6 separate regions of the Homo sapiens genome follow, and regions 2, 3, 4, 5 and 6 are each reported to be linked to region 1. The links are microRNA targets in miRTarBase. Many come from high-throughput screens and were not tested one by one. Region 1 holds a microRNA gene; each other region holds the end of a gene's coding sequence. Distances are between the middles of the regions.

Region 1 (4,085 bases):
GGGTCCAGCTCTGTCACCCAGACTGGAGTGCTGTGGCAAGATCCTAGCTTACTGCAGCCTCAAACTCCTGGGCTCAAGGGATCCTCCCAAGTAGCAAGGACTACAGGCTCACACCACCACAGCCGTAATTTTTTCTTGCTGTTGTCAAGATGGTATCTTGCTATGTTGCCCAAGCTGGTCTCAAACTCGTGGTCTCAAGCAATCCTCTCACAGTCCTGGAATTATAGGCATGAGCCACCATGCCCAGCCCCAGCTAATTGCTTTAAAACCCAGCTTTACTGTTCAGGGGCTGTCTCCATGATGTGGGTCTCACCCACCCTTGATGTCTAAACACATAAACCTCCAGGGAAGGAAACCTCTGGGGTTCTCAGTAGCTAATCAGCCATGAGTTGAATTTTCAAGGCTTGTCCTTTAGTCCAGATCTCAGCTTTCAATCAGATATGCTCAGGGTTCCCTAACTGTACAGAAACATAAAAATATTTCCTTTACAGTCCCACATACCAGGAAACTCTTCCCAAAACAAAATTGACTTGAACCATTTCTGGAACAAGGCAAGATACGTATAAATAAATAATAAATTCAAATGTGAACATGAATGTGTATGGGTCTCAATATGCATACATTGGGCATAGCATCCTGATTGTCCAGGTCATTATGTAGTTAAACATAATCACTATGACCTGCATTACCAGCCAAAGGCAAAAATACAGCCACAGCTCTTTTAATTCTCTAAGTAATGGCTCAAGTAATATACCCTCATGATGTTAACAAAGTTAACCAATTATTGATGCATTTATATGTGCCAGGCACCAAGCAAAGATATCTACCAAATTGCATTTGGCCAAACCACTTCATTTGCAGAACAACCCTATGAGATAGTTGCCTTTATAATCCCCATTTTATTAATAGGGAAACCGAGGCTGGGGAGATGAAGCCTCTTGCCTAAGATCGCATAACCGGAAAGTTGCAAAGTCAGAATGTGAGCCCAGATTTCTCTCCAAAGCCACAAGATTAAATGTATTAACATTTGAATGCTTCCTTCCAGGTAGAAATTTTTTAAGAATTAAGATCTACCAGCTGGGTGTGGTGGCTCATGCCTGTAATCCCAGCACTTTTGGGAGGCTGAGGTGGGTGGATTGCTTAAGCCCAGGAGTTAGAGACCAGCCTGGCCAACATGGAAAAACCCCGTCTCTACTAAAGATACAAAAAGTAGACAGACCTGGCATCACACACCTGTAATCCCAGCTACTCAGGAGGCTGAGGCAGGAGAATTGCTTGAACCCAGGAGGTGGAGGTTGCAGTGAGCCAAGATTGTGCCACTGCACTCCAGCCTGGGCAACAAAGCAAGACTCTGTCTTAAAAAAAAAAAAAAAAAAAGAAAAGAAAAAGAAATCTACCAGCTGGGCACAGTAGCTCATGCCTGTAATCCCAGCACTTTGGGAAGCCAAGGCAAGTGGGTTACTTGAACCCAGGAGTTCAAGACCAGCCTAGCCAACATGGCAAAACCCGTCTCTATTAAAACTACAAAAATTAACCCGTCATGGTAGTGCACACCTGTAATCCCAGTTACTCAGGAGGCTGAGATGGGAGGATCAATTGATCCCGGGAGTTGGAGGTTGCTGTGAGCCCTGATTGCACCACTGCACTCCAGCCTGGGTGACAGAGCGAGACCCTGTCTCGAAAAAAAAAAAAAAAAAAAAAAAAAATCGACCATAGACCCAGTTTAGTGAACTGCTGCATTCTGATTTTAACCACTCAAAACCTCTTTGTGTTAGATGTTTTCATTGCTCCCCATTTCAAAAAGAGAAACTGAGCTGGGCACGATGGCTCACTCCTGTAATCCCAGCACTTTGGGAGGCTGAAGCGGGTGGATCACCTGAGGTCAGGAGTTCAAGACCAGCCTGGCCAACATGGTGAAACCCCACCTCTACTAAAAATACAAAAAATAGCTGGGTGTGGTGGTGTGCACTTGTAATCCCAGCTACTTGGGAGGCTGAGGCAGGAAAATCTCGTGAACCCAGGAGGGGCAGCTTGCAGTGAGCCACGATTGTGCCACTGCACTCCAGCCTGGGTGACAAGAGTGAGACTCCATCTCAAAAAAAAAAAAAAGAAAAGAAAAGAAACTGAGACCCAGGGAGAGGAAGTGACTTGCCCAGGGGCTGCAATAACCTGTGGCCTGGGAAAGCACCTTTGCAGATGCCGTGTCTGGGACTCATTCCATACCAGGTGGCATGAGAGTTGGAACAGCTCTTGCCTTCAGACTAGCCAGGCCTGAAGTTAATGTGGCAGACAGAAGTATCTAGAAATGTGTGAAAACCTGCCAGTCCCACCCAGAGAGCCTCTCTCATCCTGCCTTCATAGAGCAGGAATGTTCTGACTCCTCTGGGGGTCCCAGGCACCCCACGAGAACCCAGAACCTCCTCAGAGGGGCATTTCTTCCTGTCCTCTCAGCTCAGGAGTAACCCCAGAGGCTGCTATTTCTTGTCCCCAGCCCAGACAGGGCTCTGTGACTGGTCTTCATAGCTCCAGGACAGGGTCCGGGACTAGGAAGGCAGGACCTGAGGCCCTCGGAGGTCTGCCTCCCCAACCCCTGCCTGAAACAGTGCAGGGAGAAGGTGGAAGTGCAGAGTGGGCTCACCTCTCGCCCACACTGTCCCCTTCTCCCCAGCGAGCTGAGGCTGCCCAGCGGGAGGTGGAAAGTCTCCGGGAACAGCTGGCCTCTGTCAACAGCTCCATCCGCCTGGCTTGCTGCTCTCCCCAGGGGCCCAGTGGGGTAAGGATGGGGTTGGGGAAGTGAGCAGGGAGGGCAGAGGGAAAGATCGGGAATGGCTGAGTTTGCAGGTTTCAGCATGTGGGTGACACTTTGTGGTTGATTGTGTGCATCCATTTGAAACTGGGAGTGTGAATGTGTGTGGGTCTCTGTGCATACGGTGAGCATAATCACTATGACCTGCTACACCAGCTGAGGATAAAAATACAGCTACAGTTCTTTACTTTTCAAGCCCACGTTTCCATATACCCTTTATTACCAGGAGTTCCAGTATCTTCCTTTGGAGGCCTCCCTTATCCCCAATTATCCAAGAATGCCAGGAACTTCCTCAGACCAAAGATCATTCTGATTTCCAGATGCACCAGCAAAGACATGGGGGAGAGGGAGTTTGAGGCAATACAGCAGCATGCAGTTTTGGTGGCTGCCACCAGGTGTCGCTGTTGAACACCGGTCATAGCAGCTTTGTGCATGCTTGGGATGGTGATGCCCCTGCTGGTTTTCAGTCCCAAAACTGGGTACTTTTAGGAGTGTGAGCCAGCCAACATATCAACAGGCAGTCATCACCAGGACTGCAGTGGGGCCACATACCAAGATAAAATTTAACATTCATACTCAGCCATTGGTTTCCAAAGCATGCCAGGTGATTCTAGGGGGATTTCCCACCCCAGCCACATGCTATGAAGAGCCAGTCTTCGGTGATCAACCCTGAGGTTCTTGTGTTAGGCCTGATTAATCAATTCATCTTTCTCTTTCCTCCTGGTTTGTGCCTCTTTGGGGTCCTAGTGTCATTTCTTGACAAGAGACTTTCATCAAGGCCACCCCAACCTACCCTTCTGTCCTATATTAGCAGTCTCCATCCTGGCTCTCCCAGAGAGCCTTGGGTTCATTATGTGAATTGGTCTGCCTTATTTCCAGATCTCTACATACCAAGGGGTGAGATTCATGATTCCTTACATAATAACAGGTCTGCTCCAGGGTGACTTCCCTCTCCACCCATGAACCTGAACTTGCGAGCATAATTTTCACTTCACCTGACACCCACATATACAGGCCCAGGTGTCTATGTCTCTCTTTCTGTTTGAATATTGGAATGAGTCTCTATGAATGTGTTACTGTGTATGTGTGTCTCTACTTGTGACCTTTGGGCAACTGACTGTATTCTTAACCTGACTGTGCCTCAGTTTCCTCATCTGTACAATTAACATCTACTTTATAGGGTTATTAAAAGGATTACATGAGTCAGGCATGGTGGCACATGCCTGTAGTCCCAGCCTCTTAGGAGGCTGAGGCAGGAGGATCACTTGAGCCCAGGAGT
Region 2 (4,085 bases), not on the chromosome of region 1:
TTTGTTTGTTTGTTTTCATTTGCACAACATTGCCTTTCCCCAAGAGTACTGGATAACAATGCCCTCCCTCCAAGTCCCAAGTCACTATTGCAGAAGTCAGGACCTTAACACACACATTTCAAAGTTACTGACACCTAGTCAAACCTGGTGCCTTAGCAATGCAATCTTGTAATTTCCCAGGTCAAACAGATCTTCAAGGGTTGCTCTCATGGCAGAATTTGGTGGTAGAAGGAAGGAAGCAGAGTCTCAGTCTTTGTGCAGCTTGTAGGGAGTTCCCTTTTTCTCAAGCCCTTGCAGCATCCTTCCCACTCTAAGCTTAAAGGAGACTGTGTAACCAGCAGTGCTCACCCATCCTGGGCCTGAGTTTGAATCCCAGCTCTGGAGTTCAGCTGTGTGACATGCAAGACCTTGTCCCTCTCTGAAGTCCTTCTGTAAAATGAGGTGGCTGCATTGGGTGATCCCATTCCACACCATGAGTCTATAGTCCTATCATCCTGGGTATACCGACGTCTGGTGGCCAACTTTGGTCCTTGCAGCTAATTCAGGTTTTTTCTTTGTTTTTGAGACATAGTCTCGCTGTGTCACCCAGGCTAGAGTGCAGTGACGCGATCTCAGCTCACTGCAGCCTCTGCCTCCCAGGTTCAAGCGATTCTCATGCCTCAGGATCCTGAATAGCTGAGGAATACAGGCACCTGCCACCACACCTGGCTAATTTTTGTATTTTTAGTAGAGACAGGCTCTCGCTCTGTTGCTCAGACTGGTCTCGAACTCCTGAGCTCAAGTGATCCGCCTGCCTCGGCCTCACAAAGTGCTGGATTACAGGCGTGAGCCACCGTGTCCAGCTCAGTTTTTAATTTTTTATTTTTCAGTATCTGGAGTGTTTAGCACAGCCAGGAAACAAAACACACCAGAGAGGGCCACCTTGCCATGTCACCAACGATGCAATAACTACCGAAGAAAGGCCCCTTGGGTGGCTATGGAGGAGCAGAGGTCAGCAGAGGAGATGGCCAGCAAAGTGCTCTCCTTTGCTCTATTTCTTTTCTTTTGAGACGGAGTCCCACTCTATTGCCCAGGCTGGAATGCAGTGGCATGATCTCGGCTTCTGCAACCTCCATCTCCCAGGTTCAAGCAATTCTCCTGCCTCAGCCTCCCGAGGAGCTGGGATTACAGGTGCCCGCCACCACACCTGGCTAATTTTTGTATTTTTTTAGGTGAGACGGGGTTTCACCATGTTGGCCAGGCTGGTCTTGAACTCCTGACATCAGGTGATCCGCCCACCTCAGCCTCCCAAAGTGTTGGGATTACAGGCGTGAGCCACTGTGTGATTCTTAGCATGTTGTAAGTTTGTCATTGTTCCATTTCCAAAGCATTCCAACCTCCATCCCCGCATGCGTTTGCACTTCTTTAGATTTGTGGGTCTGAGAGCGCATTAGCACCCCATCCACATGCAGTCTCCTGCCCTTCCAATCCTCACCCTGAAAACCTTCCTGTAGTCACAGACCTAGTCATTTTTCCCACGGCTACTCTTGAACTCTTTATGGACCTCTGCGCTCGCTTCCTCTTCTGTGAAAACAAATGAGTTTATGTAGATTAAGATCTAGCCAACTTCTGTAAAGGATCAGATGGTAAATATTTTAGGCTTTGCAGGCTAGTGACTCAACTCTGCATGAAAATAACTGCAATGTGTAAAGGAATGAGCATGGTTGGGCACCACACTGAAATTTGAATTTCATCTCCTTCCCAGGGGCCCCAGAAGAGTCTTCTTCTTCGGACTTTTTCCCCAAGCATTTAAATGTAAAAACATTTCTAGCTTGCAGGTGGTATGAAAATAGGCAGCAGGCTGGAGGTGACTGAGGAGCCTATCTAGTCTTTTTTTTTTTTTTAAACAGAGTCTCGCTCTGTTGCACAGGCTGGAGTGCAGTGGCGCCATCTCAGCTCACTGCAACCTCGGCCTCCTGGGTTCAAGCAAATCTGCCTCAGCCTCCCGAGTAGCTGGGACTACAGTTGCGCACCACCACGCCCAGCTAATTTTTGTATTTTTAGTAGAGACGGGGTTTTACCATGTTGGCCAGGCTGGTCTCAAACTCCTGGCCTCAAGCGATCCATCAGCCTCAGCCTCCCAAAGTGCTGGGATTACAGGCGTGAGCCACTGCGCCTGGCTGTATCTAGTCATCTTTAAAGACCCTCCCATCTCTGAGAACCCATGAAACTGCGCAGTCCTCTGGACTGGAGCTGGGGTGTGTCAAAGGCAAATCTTTGCCTGCCTTCTCAGAACACCATATTCAGAGAAGGCCATTCAGGACAGATTTGTCAGGCTGTTCCGAATGCCCAGGTCTGGGATGAGATGGCCTATCCATGGAGGATTTTTATTTTTTCGAGACAGGGTCTCACTCTGTTGCTCAGGCTGGAGTGCAGTGGTGTGATCTTGGCTCACCACAGCCTCTGCTTCCTGGGTTCAAGTGATCCTCCTGCGTCTGCCTCCCAAGTAGCTGTGTTACAAGAAAGGGGTCCTGATCTAGACCCCCCAAGAGAGGGTTCTTGGATCTCACACAAGAAATAATTCAAGACGAGGCGGTAAGGTGAAAGCAAGTTTATTAAGAAAGTAAAGGAACAAAAGAATGGCTACTCCATAGACAAGAGCAGCGCCTAGAGCTGCTGGTTGCCCACTTTTATGGTTATTTCTTGCTTATTTGCTAAACAAGGGGTGGATTATTCATTCCTCCCCCTTTTGGGACATATCGGGTAACTTCCTGATGTTGCCATGGCATTTGTAAACTGTCATGGTGCTGTCAGGAGTGTAGCAGTGAGGACGACCAGAGGTCACTCTCGTGGCCAACTTGGTTTTGGTGGGATTTGGTTGGCTTCTTTACTGCAATCTGTTTTATCAGCAAAGTCTTTATGACCTGTATCTTGTACGGACCTCCTGTCTCATCCTGTGACTTAGAATGCCTCCACTGTCTGAGAATGCAGCCCAGTAGGTCTCAGCCTCATTTTATTCAGCTCCTATTCCAGATGGAGTTGCTCTGGTTTAAATGTCTGACAGCTGGGACTACAGGCACACACCACCAAGCCCAGCTATGTTTTGTATTTTTTGTAGAGATGGGGTTTCACCATGTTGCCCAGGCTGGTCTCGAACTCCTGGGCTCAAGCAATCCACCCACCTTAGCCTCCCAAAGTGCTGGGATTACAGACACCCAACCCATTTGGAGGATTTTTTTTTTGAGATGGAGTCTCGCTTTGTTGCCCAGGCTGGCGTGCAATGGTGTGATCTTGGCTCACTGCAACCTCCGTCTCCCAGGTTCAAGTGATTCTCCTGCCTCAGCTTCCCAAGTAGGTAGGATTACAGGCGCCTGCCACCATGCCCAGCTAATTTTTGTATTTTTAGTAGAGACGGGGTTTCACCAAGTTGGCCAGGCTGGTCTCGAACTCCCGACCTCAGGCGATCTGCCCACCTCAACCTCCCAAAGTGCTGGGATTACAGGCGTGAGCCACTGTGCCCTGGCCAGATGTTTTTTTAAAAGAGAGAGAAAGAGAGAGAGAGAGAGAAAGAGAGAGAGAGAGGGAGAGAAGGAAACTTTGCACTCTGTTATCTTCAACCTCTTACTCTACCTTCCTCCCTAGCCGAAGTCCCAGTCCTAAAGCCTAAGAGACCCTCATTGGAACTTGACTTCTGCATAATCCGCCTGGGTGCCCTTGGGCATCCGGGCCTCAGGCCTGGGTCTGACGCCTGGGAAGTTGAGCGTGGCATAATGGAGCTCCTCTTGGCTCTCCTGGGATTCTGGGGCTTGAGTGGATGATTTGGGTTCTGGGAAACTGGGCAACTGATACTGCTTTTTCTGGTTCTTCTTTGATTCTGGGGAGGGAGCACCTGGTGGAAGAGGGGTCCGAGGACTGTTTGGTGTGGCTTTCTGATTCCGCTTCTGAGCCTGAGGGAAGAACCACCATCCTTCATTCATTCATTCAGCAAATATTTGAGCACTTACCACGCGTCGGGCACTGATTTACAGCACAGAGTGAAACTAAGTCCCTGCCCTTGCCTTGCTGAGCTTGCATTCCATCTTGGAAGGAGGAACAGACAATAATTA
Region 3 (4,085 bases), not on the chromosome of region 1:
GCGGATCCCCTGGTCAGCATCATGAGAGATGAGCTCCCTGGTGGGCAAGAAAGTTAACTACTTTTGCCCAAGTAGAGCGACTGGATCCTGAATCCACCTGGCTCCAGGGTTTGCATGCCACACTTGCCAGGGTGGGGGTGTGTCCCAAGGAGCAGCCAGGACCGGTGGAAGGAAGTGAGACCGGTCATCACAGCACGCTGCAACCAGTCTGTCCTCCACTGGCTCAGAAAGCACAACCATGCTCTGAGTTGAGACTCAAGAGGGCAGGTCTCATCAGCATAAGGATGGACTTCTTGCAAAGGTGCCCCACAGCACAAGCAGCTCCCTGGGGGAGAAAGAGTCCCCTCCTAGGAAGTGTGTCAGTACTTTTTCATTTTACTGTCTACTGCGCTGGGCACTCTGGACACACAGTGACATCAGATCCAGCATTCACTCTGGGGATCCCCAGTCTGGGGGTCAAACGACACCCAGTTGGAACACAGAAGGTAAAAATTCCCAGGTAGGGCTCAATGGGTATCCTCCCTTCTCGGCTGAGTCTAGGCACTTCAAGCCAGGGGTCATGATGCAGATTGAAGGGCCCAGCCTATAGAAGCTGACTCGAACATGCCACCATCACTCTTTTACACACCCACATCCACTTGAAGCCATTACCCAAGCACCTCCTCCGCATCCTCCCCATCTCAGACTTGCGGACACCACGCAGCCGGGTCAGCCCTGCAGCCTAAGCCTTGCCCCATGCACCTGGCACTTACCTGGCCATACCCTCTCCCAAGTGCTCCGCAGCTGCTGCTCTCACAGGTATCACTCCCGTTTGTGCCTGCCGCCCGCACCCCTGGCAGCCCAAGCTCCAGTGTTCATGCTGCTCTGCCCAGACTCCCGTTTGCTGTTCGCTCGGGCTCAGCTGCGGGAGGACAAAGGGGCTGGACGCCAGGAGGGAGGGGAAGGGAGGGGAAGGGAGAAGCGAGCAGGGAGGGGGATGCTGGGCTTTTGTTCCACTCTTGGACTAGCCCTGGGAGGGAGGGAAAGAAAGGGGGGGCATAAGAGTGGGATTGACTGTGTGTGGAACTCCAGGATTTGGTATGCCTGGGTTTGGGGGTGACCTGGTGCTGGCCTTGTCCCGGAATGACGATGGGTTCGAAGGTGTGTGGTGCTGGAGTTGGGGTGTGGGAGGGGTGTCATCATGCAGTTGTAGGCATGTAGGTTTCAGGGTGACTATGCGTGATTGTGGAAGTACATGGAATGAAGTGACTGTGTAGCATTGGGCTGCGTGTGGACATGTGGCTGTGTGACCATGTAGATGCCAATGTGACTAAGCATGTGGGGCGGGGGGCACAGTGGCTCTGAGTCTCATTCCCTTGAGCTCAGGGAGAGGCGGGAGCTGACCTCTGCCCCAGGAAGCAGAGCACTTGCCAGACATTCAGTAGCAGGGGCAGGAGGGCCGGTCCTCGAGGTTACTGTGGGGGCCCAGTGGAGCTTCCAACATTTGCAGAGGGCTCTTTTCTTTTTTACCTATAAGGTGCCAGAATCTCCTAGACCCCAAGAATTCTATCCAGAAGATCCCTGTTTGGAAGAGACACGTCCCTTGGCTCCCAGGAAGCATGGAGTTAATTTGATGCAGGCTGGAGCTGGGGCTCAGCTTCCCCCTTTTCCCTCAGGTCACACCCATGACCAGGCAGACTCTCAGGACAAAGAGGGGAGTTACAGGCCTGCTCTGACACCACCACTGACTCCTGCCCACAGACAGCAGAGGTCCCAAGGACTGGAAGGAAAGGACACCTGTGGTCCCAGGGCTGTACTTTGGCTTTCAGCTCAGGTGCCCCCAGTCCTGGGCATGGGCATGGGCCCTCCTCAGGCAGGTCCAAAGCTCGGAGAAGTCAAAGCCAAACTCCTGGCATGGGGAAGAGGCCTCCCTGTGCTGAGGGCTTGTCCCAACATAGCCGGGAGGTTCAGAATGCCTTCATGTGGCTGTGAGGGCACCTGCCAGTCCCACTCCCAGCCCTACATTGGACCCAGGAGCCCTCCCCCTCTGCGTGTCATTCCTAGCTTATGGGAGGCACACATATGCGCTGGGGCCAGAGTCTGGATGGGATTCTGGCTTGGCCTGTTCTAAGCTGTGTGGCTTTTGGAGGTCACTTTACCTCTCCAAGACTGTCTCCCCATCCACCATATGAGGATACCGGCTCCCAGCCACTGGCACCATGGCGGACCCAGGGAAGGGGAGGCACCATTCTGCCACTTTCCCATTCATTCCTGAGAATGGTTCCTCCTCAGATTATAGGGTCAGAACTGAAACCTAGACCCAGCGCACTTGTCCCCACCCTCCTGCTGGCAATTCAGAGACAACACACATCAAGATGGCAGCTTTAATCACATTGGCCAAGGGCCCTAGGTTCCCTCTGTTCAGGCCCACTTAGCCACACACCCACCCTGGCCATATCCAGAACACTTCTACCAGGTGGGCCCTGCCCTGTGGCCACTGATGTGGGAACCTGAGGTCACATCAGTCTGTGGACTCCTGGGTTAGGTGACCCTTCTGCCTTGAGGTCTGCTGGACACCTGGGCATGGGATCCAGTAGTCCTGAGCTCACTCTTTTGGCCATCTCCAGCTGCTCCTAGAGGACGTGGCTCAGGCCCGCTCCTGGGGCAGGGGGTTGGCGGTGGCATGAGGTGGGTTGGGGAGGAGGACGTGTCTCCACATTGCAGCTGGCTTCCTCCTGGGCTGAACCTCCTTGTGCTTTGAGACTGACAGGAAGAGCAGAGTTGCTTCAGGTAGAGGCTCGGCCCAGGCCCTTGGGGCAGGATAACAGCAGAGAACTCAGGTGCCTCCTGGCACAGACAGGAGGACAGATGGCACAGGTGAGCATCCACACACTCCATTGCCACAGGGGGTATGGCATGGCCCATGACCCATCAAAGCTTCCAGGTCGGGATACAGGAGAGGGCCTCAGAAGAGGGGGACCAAGCCCTAGGCCCCATACTTCCCAGAAGGAGCCCCAGGCCTGCAGGGGCATCTGAAAGGATGGAGTCCTGGCCCAGCTGGGCCTCAGGAGACAGGGAGTCCCCCTCAAGAGAGGCTGCGGCTGACAAGGGGCTGGAGCCCACAAGGAGGCTGTGGAGCCCGCTCCCAGAGCACTCCGAGTTCAGACACACTTCCACCAGCTCTCCTAGGCTCCCCAGCTTCTGTGTCAGGTACAGGTGGGACAGACATGTCTTCAGCTAACGCCCACTCCGCTCTATGAGGGTCTTGGTGTGGCTGCCACCCCCTCGGGGGCCCACAGGGGTGGCGGTGCTGTTGGCATATGTGTCATAACTGTTGTCTGAACATACGGAGAGCACATCGGAGACCTCTACACCATCGCTGATCTCTGCTGGGCCAGAGGGAGACAGAATGTGAGTCGGGGAGGAGGCAGTCGTGAGGATGGGTGACAGATGGGGCAGGAAGGCTGCACCACCCAGCGGGGCACTTGGAGGCTGATGAAACCACTGGGCTCAGGTCGACATTGAGCCTGGCACTCAAGGCCCCTTTGGTGTCTGCTGAGCACTCTAGCTTCGCCTTCATCTGCTGTCCCCTGGGACTCTGCAGCCACAGAAAACCACCTGTGCCCCTGAGCTTGGCACCCATGTGTCCACTCTCCTCAGGGCCTTTGCATGTGTCAGCCCCTCTCTTAGGAGTGACTGCCCCAACAACACCTCCTTTTCCTACAGTCTGGCTCAAGTCTTCTCATCTGTCACTCAGCCTCCTGGGAACCTCATCGGAGCCCTGGGCCGAGTTAGGGCCTCCTCATGGCAACTCCAGACCCTGCTTCCTTCTGCCCTGGCCATATTCTGTATGGTTGCTGCCTGGGCCCCCAAAATACCTCAAGGACCAGGGTGGGTTCTGGGCATCTATGTCCCCAGGGCCTGGTAGAGTGCTGGACACAGAGCAGAGGCTCAAGAAAGCTCTGCTGAGTGGAGTTCGGCCATATAGAGGGACACTTCATTCTTGGTGCCCAGGCAAGCGGTGCTCCCTTGCCACCTCTGCACACATGCCGTGCCCACCTGGAATGCCCTTCCTTCCCTCAGCTCACTCGGCCCTCATCTTGAAG
Region 4 (4,085 bases), 58 Mb from region 1:
GCCCTGTTTTTGCTCCTACTTGCTTGTTCCTCTGTGGAGAAGGGGTTTTAAAATGGCTTATAGGGTGCTGGAAGTTGTGGGGTGATTATGTAGGGAGAAAAAAGGAAAACAACTAAAACCAGTATGAAAAAGCTTCCCCAAAGAGGAGATAGTATGTAGAAAAGCCCCATTTTCCTTTTATTTAAATATCCTAAATATATCACGAAGGAACATACACTGCACTTTAATGGTAAAAAGATACAAGTTTATAACATCTTATAAAAACTACCATTTAAAAGTGATCTTGTCCATTTGATATTCCCCTCCCCCATAGCAAAATATTATTTAAAAAAAAAAAAAACAAAAAACAGGGTGGAGAGGAGGATAGGAAGGGGACAGTTGATAAAACCCCAGGGCCACAGCAGAGGCAAAGGGCATCTGGGGAGAGGGTTCGAAGCTGTGGCGGACTCCACTAATGTAACCCTCCAATGTCAAGCCATGGGCGTGATCAGTAGCTAAGTGATGACAAGGCTGTTGGGGGTGGACGGAAAAGACTTGGGGCAAAGCAGACTGTTTATAGCCTGAGCTGGTAGGGCCTGGTGCAGCAGCCTACCCGGAACTGGCACTACTCTTTCCCAGGTTCCCTGACTCTCTATCCTGGTCTCTGAGAGCGTGCCCTACTTCCGTTTCCCCCACTCCAAACACACCTGAGGCATCTTCCAGTGCTAGGCCCCATGCTGGCCAGCAGGGGTCGGGCATTGGGCCCAGGAGCCTCTGCAGCGGTGTGAGTCAGTGGCTTCCCTGGGGTATCCGTGGGGCTCCCGGGCCCTCTGGATGCCAAATCACTCCTTTCACTGCTTTGCGCCTCTCTTCTCACACATGCACTGCCCCAGACATCAGCGCGGGAACTGAACCAACCACCTGCTCCTGAGTTTCCCTCACTGGGTCCTTGGCAGGGGTGGCTCTGCTATGGCTGTTCGCACATACTCTCTGAAGTTCCCTCCCTCCCACCCACCCAGGCAGGAAACCAAGGTCTGTGGGAACCCAGGGCACCTTCTGACCCAGTACACACATTAGTACACATAGGGGCACAGGTCACTCATGTGAGACTTACATGAATCTCTCCACATACACCCCTATCCCAAAGAGACTAGCTGTAAGTGGCAGGGACAGAGGGCTCTCATTTTCAAAAGCATTTTTGGGAGGATAGTTTTCTAAATATTTTAAAATGGTTTACAGGGTACTGGAAGATGTGGGGTGAATCATCCCAGAAGTGAAGGACAGGAAAAGCCCAGATCCAGCAGAACCCTTGAACAGGAAGGGGGCTGGCTCACATGCAGAAAGATGCCCCTGCTTGCAGGGACCACAGGGCTGATCCAAGGACTGAGGTCTAAGTTCTGGACCACATCAAATGGGAGTGTCAGCATAGAGCTGTAAGAGTACATGGCAGCAAACACTCCTCAGCGTCTCCCCAAAAGGATCTCAGATGCTGTCAGGGAAAATCGAATGGGTGCCATGCCTGCTTTCTTTTTCCCTGAAATACTCATACCACAGAGGTATGGACAACCCCCTCCCCAACCCCACCCCTCCAGAATAGGTAACAGCCAGGAATCATTGCTGGTATCCATTCTTTACATTTTCTGGGAAATGAAATCATACTTTCAGGAGTTTCCCATCTCAGACCCTACTGACAGCTTGGCACTCAGGTTCAGCCAGTCTCCATGATTACTAAGACAGTTCCCGTACCCGCCACAGGTCAGGTCAGGTTACAGTGGGGGTCAACCAAACCCCAAAACTTCCCATAAGGATTCTTTCTTTAGCAGAAAGAAAAGGTTTATTTCACCTTAGAAAATTCATGTTCACAAGCCCTGGCTTGGGTTAGAAACATCCTAACCACCAGGCTGTTGAATTCATCTTAAAAAAAAAAACCCTCCAAAACAAAAGCCCTTCTGTTCCCCAAATTGTGTTCTTCAGCTCCTGCTGAGACCTCAAGCACCCTTCATGTTTGGGCAAGAGGAGGCTATTTTCCACTCATCCTCCCTGAAGGTGAGGGCCAGAGAAGGGTTTGGCTCAATAATATGCCATCTCCTGCAAGCATACAAATACATGCATTCATATCTCACACACACTCTCTCTCACACACACACACACACCCGATTACTTTTTTGGGAGTGGACAAGGTGGTGGTATTGGAGCAGAGAGGAGCAAAGAATATGGTTAAGAATGGAACCTACATTAGGTTTCTTCTTTAGTCTTTTCTCTGCAGCACCCCCACCCCCATCCCCCACACTCTGTTGGGTAGGGATGGCCATCAGGAAGCAAGCCGAGATCTTGTTTTTTGGGACCAAAGGACAGACCCCTCCCTACCTCCTCTACCTGAATACAGTGATAGGACTTGGGGAGGGAGAACAGCTCCTACTGCTCAACAGGCATGTCAGAAGACCCCAGATTCCTTTGTTTCTTGAGCAGCTGTTAGCCAACTTGGGACCAGTCTTGGGTTGTTCCTAAGAGGGCACAAGGAGAGAGAACCCACTTTGACTTCCATGACTCCTTGCTCAACACATCTGTCTCACTTTAGGAGTCAATGGCAGCGAGGTAGCCACATACCATCTCCAAGACCGACTCCCCAAAAAAAGAAGAAAAGGGCTTCATGGGCCACTCTCACCCAAGTTTCCTCCTAAAGGCATTTGAGCTGATGCCATCAGGTGCCAATGTGACATGGGCCATGACAACACCCACTGGCACAACTCTTCCTTTTCCCTTGAGGAAGGAAGAGGTGCCATCCACTTTTTGGATCCAGCCCTTGTCTGCTCCACCCCGTTTTTCCTTTTGTCCCTACAGTGTATAAGGAAGCCAAAGTAAGCTCAGCTGCCATTCCTGACCTTATTCTTCCTCAAAAAGGAGGCGAAGTGCAGGATTGTGAAACACTGAGGAGCTACTGCAACTAAAAACCCAATTTTTGGGGAGAGCTGGACCAGCTATAGTCCCTACTTTGGACCAGGACTCTTATGCCTCTGGATTACCTGTATCCACAGTTTACCCGCTGAAGTTGCTTTTGGATAAACAAAAACAAGAACAGAACAAACAAATCCCCTTCCCCAATCTTTTCCATTTCAGCTGCCAGCTGGAGTCCAAGGTTGTGGGAGCCACACTTCAGTCTTGGTCCTGTACCTTGAGTCCCCACCTATGACCTCAGCCAAGGGTCCAGGGACTAGCTCCCCTACCCAGGAATGCTGTAAGAACTTCCCCGAGATACTCATAGTCTCAGATTATTTACAGAGCTGAGGTTCTGGGGCCACTGTCCCCTGATGCACTCTTCTGGTCTCCTGGGTCCACTCCTCCAGGAGTGGGACAGGTTCACATGGGGCGGTGGTGGGACCATCAGACCAGAGGGGGTGTGCTCTTCGGCAGGTTCTTCTGATCACTCCCACCACCCGGGGCCCCTTGCGCCTATAGAGAAAACTGCCCGTCGGAAGTCTTGGACTGGCACCCTTGGCACATCCGTTTGTGTCTGAGTAATCGATCTGTCCGAGAAAAACACTGAGAAGAAAGGGAGGGTTAAGTGCCTGAGCAGACAAACGCAGCTACCTGTTGGCTAACTCATTCCTCTCACAGGAGGCAGATACCACATTCTCCATCCCCTCAGCACGTGCACAGACAGCAGGAGCACACGGTGGTGGAGAATCCAAGCTCTCAGGCCAGACCGCCTGGGGCTGAATCTTGGCTCTATCACTCAGCAGCTGTGTGACCTTGGGCAAGTTACCTAACAGCCCAGAATCTGCATACTCATCTGCAAAACTGCAAAGCGAGGCTAAAAGTACCTACTCACAGCACAGCTGCTTTATTCATCAAAGATTTATTGAGTATCTATCTCAAGGCAGATACAGAGTAGAGAACCAGAGGAACAAAGTCTCTGCCCTCATGGAGCTTTTATTCTAGCGTCTGAAGATTCAGTGTAAGAGTGCAGAGCAAAGCTTGGGACCTAGCAATGCATCCAGGAAGTGTTAGCTATTATCATTTCTCATCTCTTGTTCTTGTCTTGTTTTGGCCCCAGCTCTTACATTCTCATCAGATCAGATACTGACCCCCAGGGCAAAGATTGTATC
Region 5 (4,085 bases), not on the chromosome of region 1:
CCCTATGCCCGGATGTGCATTAGTGGGTACGCAGTGAGCCAGCACTGCCCCTCCCCCAGCTGCTGCCAGTTCTCCTGTGAACCAAGTGGGACTCCTCTGTACTCCCCTGGCCAGCGTGCCAATCTCTGAGAGGAACAGGAGGTCCAGAGAGGCTAAGTGACCTACACAAGGCCACACAGCCAGTTTGTGCTGCCCTACTCTGAGCTCCTCGTTGCTGGCATTTTAGGGTAGTCTTTCTCCAATGCCATTTTAGTCTAGGACTCACCCAGCAGAAGGGATGTGGATTGTGGGGATTTACAGGCTAAGAGTGGTGAGCACCTTGCTCTTCCTAGCACCTCCCCAACCAGTGCTCTGGGGCGCTCTTCATCAGAGCCCTGTGTTTTGGAGACAGAACTCATGGGTCAGAATTCTTGCACCCCAACTCCTTCCGTAGAATCTCTTCTCTGGGAGCCCTAGAGCTTAGGAGTGGGCTATGGCTGGGTCTCACTCTAACCCTTTGTCCCTGCAGATTTGATGAGCCTGTCCCAGACCTCTGCAGCCTCAAGCGGTTGTCTTACCAGAGTGGGGATGTCCCTCTGATCTTTGCCCTGGTGGATCATGGTGACATCTCCTTCTACAGCTTCAGGGACTTCACGTTGCCCCAGGATGTGGGGCACTGACCTCACAGCTCTGCAGAGGATGGAGCTTGCTCCGGGGGACCGGGACTGTCTGTTCTCAGGGACCATCTCGGCTGCCTCCTGTACCCAGACTCTAACCTGTAGCTTCAGAGGCCAGTCTGGGCCTTGGCCCTGGGTGTCTGATACTCACAGAGTGAAACTGTGACCCTCTCCCTTCCCTGCTGCCTTGCAGTGACCCCTCTGGAACTCAGGACTCGATTTTAAGGACCCAGGAGGTGGGGCAGAAGAGAGGACTGTGTGCCTTTAACGAGAGGGTGCCTGCTTCGTGCTATAAAGCCAAAGCCATTAAAAATAGATTTCTTTTCTGCTGTTTCTGTATGTACTGGGTAAACCCCTCTCGCCCCCGTCCCGTTGTCAGTGGAACTGCCCCCAGCCCCTCACCCCTGCTTTGCCCACTCAAGGAGATCCGCTTCCTCTGGTGCGGGATCTAAGAGTGAGAGAAGCCCGCGGGATAGCAGGAACGCGACCTCGAACCTTTTGAGCCTTTCCCGGGCCTGCGTCGGAGGGGATGGGACGTCGCAGGCTTCCCGAAGGGAGGAGGGAGGACGGCGCGCCATCGGCCCTTCCCTGGGCGCAGCGGGGTGCGGGTGGCGAGAGGCGCCACCTGCAGCTGGGCGGTGGAGCGCGCTGCAGCCCCGGCCTCCGCGCCCTTTCCGCTCCCGCCTCTCGTCGCTCCAACCTCCTCCCTCGCTTGTGCTAAAAATTCCACCCGCTGTTGCAGACCCTCCGGCCGACACGGAGGAGGTGGGCGCCCCCCCGCACCCCCCCCCGAGGAAAGGCGTCTCGCCGCGACGCCCCGGTCCCTACACCATCCCTCTCGTGGGGCTGGAAACCCGGCCCTGCGTCCCCCGGTCACCCTCTCTGGGCTGGGCTCTGGCAGAGGAGCTGGCCCGGATCCGCCCCTCCCTCGGCAGCTCCCGGGAGTTGGAGGGACGGCTCCCCTGGAGTCTGGGAGGCGGCCCGGGACCGCAGGCGTTCCGGGAACTATTTCCGCTTGCGGGAGGCGGCGGGACACTGGGCGCGGCGCGCCGTTCTGCGTCCAGGTGCGCGCAGGTGAGGCCGGGGCGGGCCTGCGGAACCCCGAGGCCGTTCGCGAGGCCCCGCCCCGCGCTTCCCGGGGCCGCGGATTGGCAGGAGCGCAGCCCCCACCCCCGAGGGTGCCCCCGCCCCTGCGGCGCCGAGCTGGGGGGCGGGCCGGGGGCGGGGCGCTGGGCCCCGGCAGGCTCGCCCTTTATGTAAATAGCGCGGCTCCGCCCCAGGCTCGCCGCGCCGGAGGTGAGCAGGAAGGAGACGGCCGCCCAGCAGCCCGTGGGCAGGCGCGGCGGAGCGAGCGGGGCCGGCGGCGGGCGCCGAGGGACGCCGAGGCCTCGGGCGGGGGCTGGCCCGGGGTTCCAGGTGAGATGCGTGCCGGACTCGCCCAGCCGGGCCCGCCCCCTCGGGGCTTCCACCTGGGGCGGGGAGGCCAGGGAGGCCCAGGACCCCTGGGCTGTCGGGCCAGGGCGGGAGGGCTGCGCCCAGGTCCGCGCGCCTCGCCCCTGTCCGCGTCGCTGTGCTGGCCTGGAAGAGAGACACCTGTAGAAAGTTCTGCGGGAAACTTCTCTGCCTGATCTGCGCGATGACTGAAACTTGGGCTTGGGTTTGCACAATAATGTTGGCTTAGGAGAGCAGGAGAACAGGTGCCCCGGCCGGCTGGGTGCGGGGGGCACCGCGGGCAGAGACGGAGTCCCCGGGCCCACGTGCAGGCGCCAGGCCAGCGGGGTTGGCGACGCGCGTCTGCGGTGACCCCCTCCCCACGGGCGGCGGCCGGAGCGCGGTGCCCCGGCGGCTTAGCCCCTGCCCCTGCCATCTGGGCTGTGTCCCTGCCGGCCCTTTGTGCCTCCTAATCCCCGGACGCAGGAAGCCCGCGGGAGGGACTTCGGTCTCCGGCCTTTCTCCAGCTGGGGCGGCTTTGGACACCTTCACATGACAGTGCGGAGACCCAGTCTGCCCTCCATGCTGACGGGCGGGGTTTGCGCTGTGGGATTTGGCGAGAAGTGGAAAATTCTATCTTGCCAAAGAAAGTGTGTCTTAGTTTGTTCCGGCTGGACGATTGGTGGACACGCTGGGCCTTGGCTGTGGGGAGAACTGACCTAACCAGGGGAGCTGTAGAGTGGCGCTTTGAGGCTCTCACCTGAACAGGTGAGCTTTGAGTGAGGAGGGCGCCCCTTCCCCTGGGGATCCGTATGCGACTGCCGGCAGCCTTAACCTGGGCTCCAGGGACCCCCTGCTGGAGTTTGTAGTTCAAGAGAACCTTGAGTTCTCTTGAAGGGGCTACAGAGAGGATTCTGAGCAGGGAGCGGGCAGGGAGGGAATGGGTGTGTCAAGGTGACAAGGAAACGCTGGTAGGAAGAGCAGAGCTGCCACAGAAGAGCTGTGGCCCAGCCCGGGGGAAGCCAAGGTCAGAAGTGGCAGTTGAGGCTGGGTGCATTGGCTCACAGCTGTAATCCCAGCACTTTGGGAAGCCAAGGCAGGAGGATCGCCTGAGCCCAGGAGTTTGAGACCAGCCTGGGCAACATAGTGAGACCTCGTCTCTGCAAATAATAAAAAAAGTTAGCCAGGCATGGTGGCGTGCACCTGTAGTCCCAGCTACTCAGGAGCCTGAGGTGGGAGGATTGCCTGAGCCCAGGAGGTGGAGGTTGCAGTGAGTCATGATGGCGCCACCACACTCCAGCCTGGGGACAGAGTGAGACCCTGTCTCAAAAAAAAAAAAAAAAAGTGGCATTTGAGGAAAACTGTCTGGGTCTGTGTGAGCAGAGGCACAAGGAGAACTGTGCGAGAGATGTCTCAGCTTTATTTTATGAACTGGGATTTGGGGTTTAGTTTTCTTAGGCGATCTTCCCACAGTGCTAGCTGTGGCAGACAGAACTCAAACTCAGCTCTTAAGCTTCTAATCAGAGTTCACTCCTTTCCTCTGAAGTTAGACTGGGCCCATCTTTGTGGGGGCTCCTGGACAGGGTTTCCGGGGTCCAGGGTCATTTGGCATCCCCATTCTTCCTTGAGGCAAGGGAGTTTCCCCTTTGGTGTCAGATTAATATGCTTTTAATTATATTAAAATGACACTACATTCATAAATAAGAAATAAAATAGAAAAAAGTAACTTTTTTCTCTTTTTTTTTCTTTTTTTTAAACTAAGTTGACCAAATTCTTTTTTTCTTTAATAATATGTTTTTTAATTTGTAGAGATGGGATCTCACCATATGTTGCCCAGGCTGGTCTCAAACTCCTGGACTCAAGTGACCCTCACACTTCAGCCTCCCAAAGCGTTGGGATTACAGGTGTAAGCCACTGTGCCCAGCTGTTAGTAACTTTTTTTTTTTCTTTTTTTGAGGCAGAGTCTTGCTCTGTCACCCAGGCTGGAGTGCAGTGGTG
Region 6 (4,085 bases), not on the chromosome of region 1:
ATAAAGTTCTCATGGTCCCCAGCCCTGAAAAAACAATAAAAATAGGAAACATTAAAGAAAAAGATAAATTAAGTAAAAGCTTTTGATTTGATGAGGAAAAACAGTCACTGCCGTAGAGTGGCCTTGTACAGACACAGCCAGGGTGCTGGTGACATGGGACGTGTGAGGTCGGGGTATACTGGGCAGTGCCCAGGGCAGCAGGGCCCCTGCAGAGGTGGCTTCCTGGTCCACCCCGAGCTTTCCCGGGATCCAGCCCGCTAGCCCACAGCAGCAATCCCTGTGCTTCCCTCCCCCTGCAGGTGTGGCGGGCTGGGGCTGGTGCTGGCCAGCGCGGGCTTCGGCATGCTGACGGCACCCATCATCGAGCTGCACAACCAGAAAGGCTACTTCCTGCACCACATCATCTTTGCCTGCTGCACGCTCATCTGCATCATCTGCATCCTCCTGCTGCCCGAGAGCAGGGACCAGAACCTGCCTGAGAACATTTCTAACGGGGAGCACTACACGCGCCAGCCGCTGCTGCCGCACAAGAAGGGGGAGCAGCCACTGCTGCTCACCAACGCCGAGCTCAAGGACTACTCGGGCCTCCACGATGCCGCAGCCGCGGGTGACACACTGCCCGAGGGTGCCACGGCCAACGGCATGAAGGCCATGTAGCCCGGCCTGCGGAACCCGGGGCTCCAGGGTCTGGGGCAGCTTGGGCACAGGTTTACAGACCAGGGACCGAACACGCAGCCAGGGGTGGGAAAGCTGCCTCAGCCAAGCTGAGCCTCTCAACTGGTGTGGGGAAATCCTGTCTTTCCAAAAGTCCAAGGAGCGCGGGTCGGAGGAGACAAACTCTTTGGAAATAACCCTTTCAAGACTTTCTTTTCTGCCGTTAAATGTGTGTATTTATTTTGGTCATTTTTACGAGAAGCACTTTATTCCCTCTCCCTCTCACTGATCACAAATGGAATCACCTCCCTGGGCAGCGAGACGCAGTTGCTCTGGGAAGATGCCACAGTGACCAGGGCCATGGCCGGTCCCTCTGGGGAGATGGGACACGGCTCCTGGCAGCACCCAGGAGCCCCCCAGGCTGCCTGCCTGCGTGCAGAGGCAGGAGAGGACCGTGGAGCGTTTCCGGGACTGCATTTTAGACGGAGTGAAATGTACATGAATTTGGCTTTTGCTAGAGTCTGTGTATGGTTTTTTAAGGTCCTTTTTCCCTTTCTGTTTGTAAGGTAAGAGCTTCTGTTCGTGTGCAGGGAAAGCAGCTCACAGACGCCGTTAAAACCAGCTTCATCTTTCCTTCAGGATCATCCTTTTGTACTTGATGCTGGAAGCTCTTGGAGAAAAAGCTTAAACATTTCACCAGAAATCTTAATTGAGCAGCAGTCATATCGCCACAGCTTTGTGAGTACACAGCTAACAGATGCGTCGAGACCTGAGATGTGCTCGTTTTTATTCCTCCTCTCCCAGATTGGCTCCAGCAGAAAAGTCCCTCGTGCACAGGCAGCTCTTGTGCCGGCACTACTTGAAAACATGGCTACTTTCTAAGCTACAAACCATTAGAAAATAACTCAAAAAGATGGCAGAGGCAAATCCACAGAAGGGGGGCTGCCCTCCACACACACACGCCCGTCACCCACACCTTGAGCACACACCATGAAGATCACCAGCTTGGATGGCCGTCACCTCAGACATCACTCCAGGGAGCACCCGCAGGAGCTGGGCCCCCTCACGCCTGCCTTCCTGGGCCAGCTTCCTGCTTGCAGTCACTCGCATAGCACAGAGGTGGGGCTTCGGGCAGGGAGCGGAGATTCCTCATAGGTGAGTCCAAATGACCTCCAGCCTCTCGAAGGCATCAAGACAAATTGAAAGAAAGCAATAACTCACCAAAGCTCAACGCTGCCCCTGCCTCGACCTCCATGGGTCTCTTCGTGTTCCTCGTTTCACCCCAGAAAGTGGAGGTTTCCTCTTGGCATTTTCGGAGGAAACTTGTAGGACACCCAAGGCGACTAAGAGACAGCCTCCTTGGCAAGGGCAGGCACCACTTTGTAGCAACTTGGGCACCAGCTTTTCTGGACAGCCTGGCTTCTTACTGGCATTGTCCAACTCATCCCTTCTCGAAGCATGTCTTTGCCATGGGCTGTGTCCTTCCAGGGAAATTGTGGTCTCGGGCCTGGGTGAGACAATGAAGTGACTTCCAACCGACAGTTGCTAGAATTCACAGGGCAGAAAAGGGGTTGACCTTCTCCCCTTCTGGCTTTCCACCCGGCCTGCTGCTTGCTGTCGCCACTCATGTCTCCTCCACATGCGGTCCACACATCAGTAAGGGCCTGGAGATGTGTAAAGACACAGCAAGGGGCAAGCAGACTCTTGGCCACGTGTTTCCAGTGGCTGGACCACGCCGACACCTGGGATCTTGAGATACCCAGGAAGGGAGGCTGTCTGGCCAGCCTCTCCCTGCCTCCACTTGCTCCACGTCCAGCTCCTCACCTTCCCTCTTTTTTAAAGTCACATTTCCATGTTTCAACATTAGTTTGCATTCACCTTTACAAAGGCCTTTCTTTAGATCTGTGCAGCCTTTGCGTGCCAAACTTGTGAAATTCCTTTTACCTTTTTTGGAGTACTTGCTATAAAGCCACCTGTCAACAAACCCCCATTATGTACAGAATAGGACCTATCCAGTAGCCAGGCCAGTAGGCAGTTGGGGAAGGTGGGAAGGATCCAGCGAGGCCCCTGAGCCTGCACCTGGACAGGTGTACGTCTGCACCCATCACCCTCAGCACCAGGCCACCCTGCAGTCCACTTACTGTACTGTGTTGTGGAAGGATATGCTAAGTGATGAAAGTTGCGAGCAGTCTCACTGGTCGTGTAAACTTTTTTTTTTTTTTGGAAATTGAAGCTGTAGAGTGCTGCCCGAAATCTCTAGGAAGTTGGTGGCAAGGGACAGCACTCACACTCTTCTGGTCATGATCTCTGATCTCCACCTCAAATGACAATAAAAAACTGGTCCAACGAAGACACTGCTCAGCACTTCAGCCATCAGGACTAATCCATCGATGACTGGAAAAGAGGCTAGCTTTGAGGAAAACAGCCTGGGCTCTTGGGAGCAGAGTCCAGTGGGTGTGAGGCTGACTTGCCGACGGTCGGCAGGTAATGGCTCTCAGCCGGCGAGGCGGTCCCACAGCTCTCCTCCCAGGGCAGCCTGAGGAGGAGGAGGCCGGGTGCCTGTTTGGTGGCAGCTTCAGCCTAGGGATACCTGAAGCTGTTGAGCAACACCTTTATGAAATGTTGCCAGAGCAGCAACACTTCCCTGTGGGCACAGCCCCGGGAAATCCGGTACCAAGTGAGCAAGGTGGCAGGACCCACCCAAGCCTGATACGCATCTGGGCCCGCCGGGCTCAGCAGGGGAGGCTGCTACGGCTGCCCACTTCCCAGCACCGTCTGTCACGCTTGAACCCCTCTGTGCTGTTCCCTTCCTGGCTAATAGGGAGACCCTTCGCAGGCACCCACTGTTTCAACTTGACCCTCCCACCCCCTGCTACTCTCCTCCACACACCCCTCCGTTCCGCTAGCCTACCCTGTCAGCCTTTCAATAAAAGTTATGCACAAATGTGAACACCTGAGATGGAGCTGAACATTTCTTCACTTTGTTCTTTTTCTGAAGTCAAACTCTTATCAAATGCCCTAAAATTATTACCACCCAAGAGAAACAGGAAAAAGGTTACATGTTTTTGTTTACTGAGAGTAAGATCACCTGCATCTGGAAGACGGGCTGGTAAATTGGTTTGGCTACAGAACAGAAAGAAAACAAAAACAAACCTCGTAAGGGAAGTATCACACTCAGACACCACCGCTTCCTAGAGCCAAATGAGCAATCCCAAACTGCAAGTGCCATAAGTGGGCCTGTGAGGTCACACCGCCCGGCCCGAGGTATCGCATGTGCGGGGGAGGTCCACACTACAGCTGTCCTCTCGTCTAGAAGGCACCACCTCGCTTTCATGTCCCGTGTGTTTTGGAAAAGCAGTATGGTGTGTCATGTCTAGCGGCGAACACTTCCCTCCCTGTCCTTGAGGTTGTAATATAAAAACTGTGTTTCT

What was found. The annotated mature microRNA hsa-miR-6760-5p reads CAGGGAGAAGGUGGAAGUGCAGA and lies in region 1 at 2,606-2,628, shown strand. An mRNA with a match to its seed (bases 2 to 7 or 8) in the 3' UTR can be bound and repressed. Matches are read on the target gene's strand: a 7mer-m8 pairs with bases 2 to 8, a 7mer-A1 pairs with bases 2 to 7 and ends in A, and an 8mer does both.
Region 2: the mRNA of SIGLEC10 is a reported target of hsa-miR-6760-5p. Seed matches in the 3' UTR shown: 7mer-m8 at 3,560-3,566.
Region 3: the mRNA of GDPD5 is a reported target of hsa-miR-6760-5p. The part of its 3' UTR that is shown has no 7-base or 8-base seed match.
Region 4: miRTarBase lists ZNF740 as a target of hsa-miR-6760-5p. Seed matches in the 3' UTR shown: 7mer-m8 at 2,381-2,387 and 8mer at 91-98.
Region 5: the mRNA of TSEN54 is a reported target of hsa-miR-6760-5p. Seed matches in the 3' UTR shown: 7mer-m8 at 826-832.
Region 6: miRTarBase lists SLC22A23 as a target of hsa-miR-6760-5p. Seed matches in the 3' UTR shown: 7mer-m8 at 929-935 and 7mer-m8 at 2,441-2,447.

The regions. Positions count from the first base shown.
Region 1 is chr12:111,301,542-111,305,626 of GRCh38, forward strand. It overlaps MIR6760 (microRNA 6760), which reads left to right and starts at 2,601; the gene lies at 2,601-2,668. It overlaps CUX2 (cut like homeobox 2), which reads left to right. Exons shown (of 22, transcript NM_015267.4): 10 at 2,669-2,773. The region is part of intron 2 of LOC105369983 (a long non-coding RNA gene); the gene reads right to left.
Region 2 is chr19:51,407,446-51,411,530 of GRCh38, forward strand. It overlaps SIGLEC10 (sialic acid binding Ig like lectin 10), which reads right to left. Exons shown (of 11, transcript NM_033130.5): 11 at 2,575-3,926. The coding sequence ends at 3,654. Among named protein-coding and RNA genes, the nearest start is that of SIGLEC10-AS1, 6.2 kb to the right of the region's middle. RefSeq lists enhancers at 438-487, 1,505-2,005.
Region 3 is chr11:75,432,291-75,436,375 of GRCh38, forward strand. GDPD5 (glycerophosphodiester phosphodiesterase domain containing 5) reads right to left here. Exons shown (of 17, transcript NM_030792.8): 17 at 2,350-3,365. The coding sequence ends at 3,217. KLHL35 (kelch like family member 35) reads right to left here and starts at 913. Exons shown (of 7, transcript NM_001039548.3): 1 at 753-913. RefSeq lists an enhancer at 1-437.
Region 4 is chr12:53,186,935-53,191,019 of GRCh38, reverse strand. It overlaps ZNF740 (zinc finger protein 740), which reads right to left. Exons shown (of 7, transcript NM_001004304.4): 7 at 1-3,519. The coding sequence ends at 3,430. Among named protein-coding and RNA genes, the nearest start is that of CSAD, 8.1 kb to the right of the region's middle. RefSeq lists a silencer at 641-935.
Region 5 is chr17:75,523,754-75,527,838 of GRCh38, forward strand. It overlaps TSEN54 (tRNA splicing endonuclease subunit 54), which reads left to right. Exons shown (of 11, transcript NM_207346.3): 10 at 1-26; 11 at 509-982. The coding sequence ends at 659. LLGL2 (LLGL scribble cell polarity complex component 2) reads left to right here and starts at 1,944. Exons shown (of 26, transcript NM_001031803.2): 1 at 1,944-2,072. RefSeq lists silencers at 1,310-1,409, 1,430-2,149, 1,466-1,650.
Region 6 is chr6:3,269,627-3,273,711 of GRCh38, reverse strand. It overlaps SLC22A23 (solute carrier family 22 member 23), which reads left to right. Exons shown (of 10, transcript NM_015482.2): 10 at 300-4,085. The coding sequence ends at 657. Among named protein-coding and RNA genes, the nearest start is that of PSMG4, 13 kb to the right of the region's middle.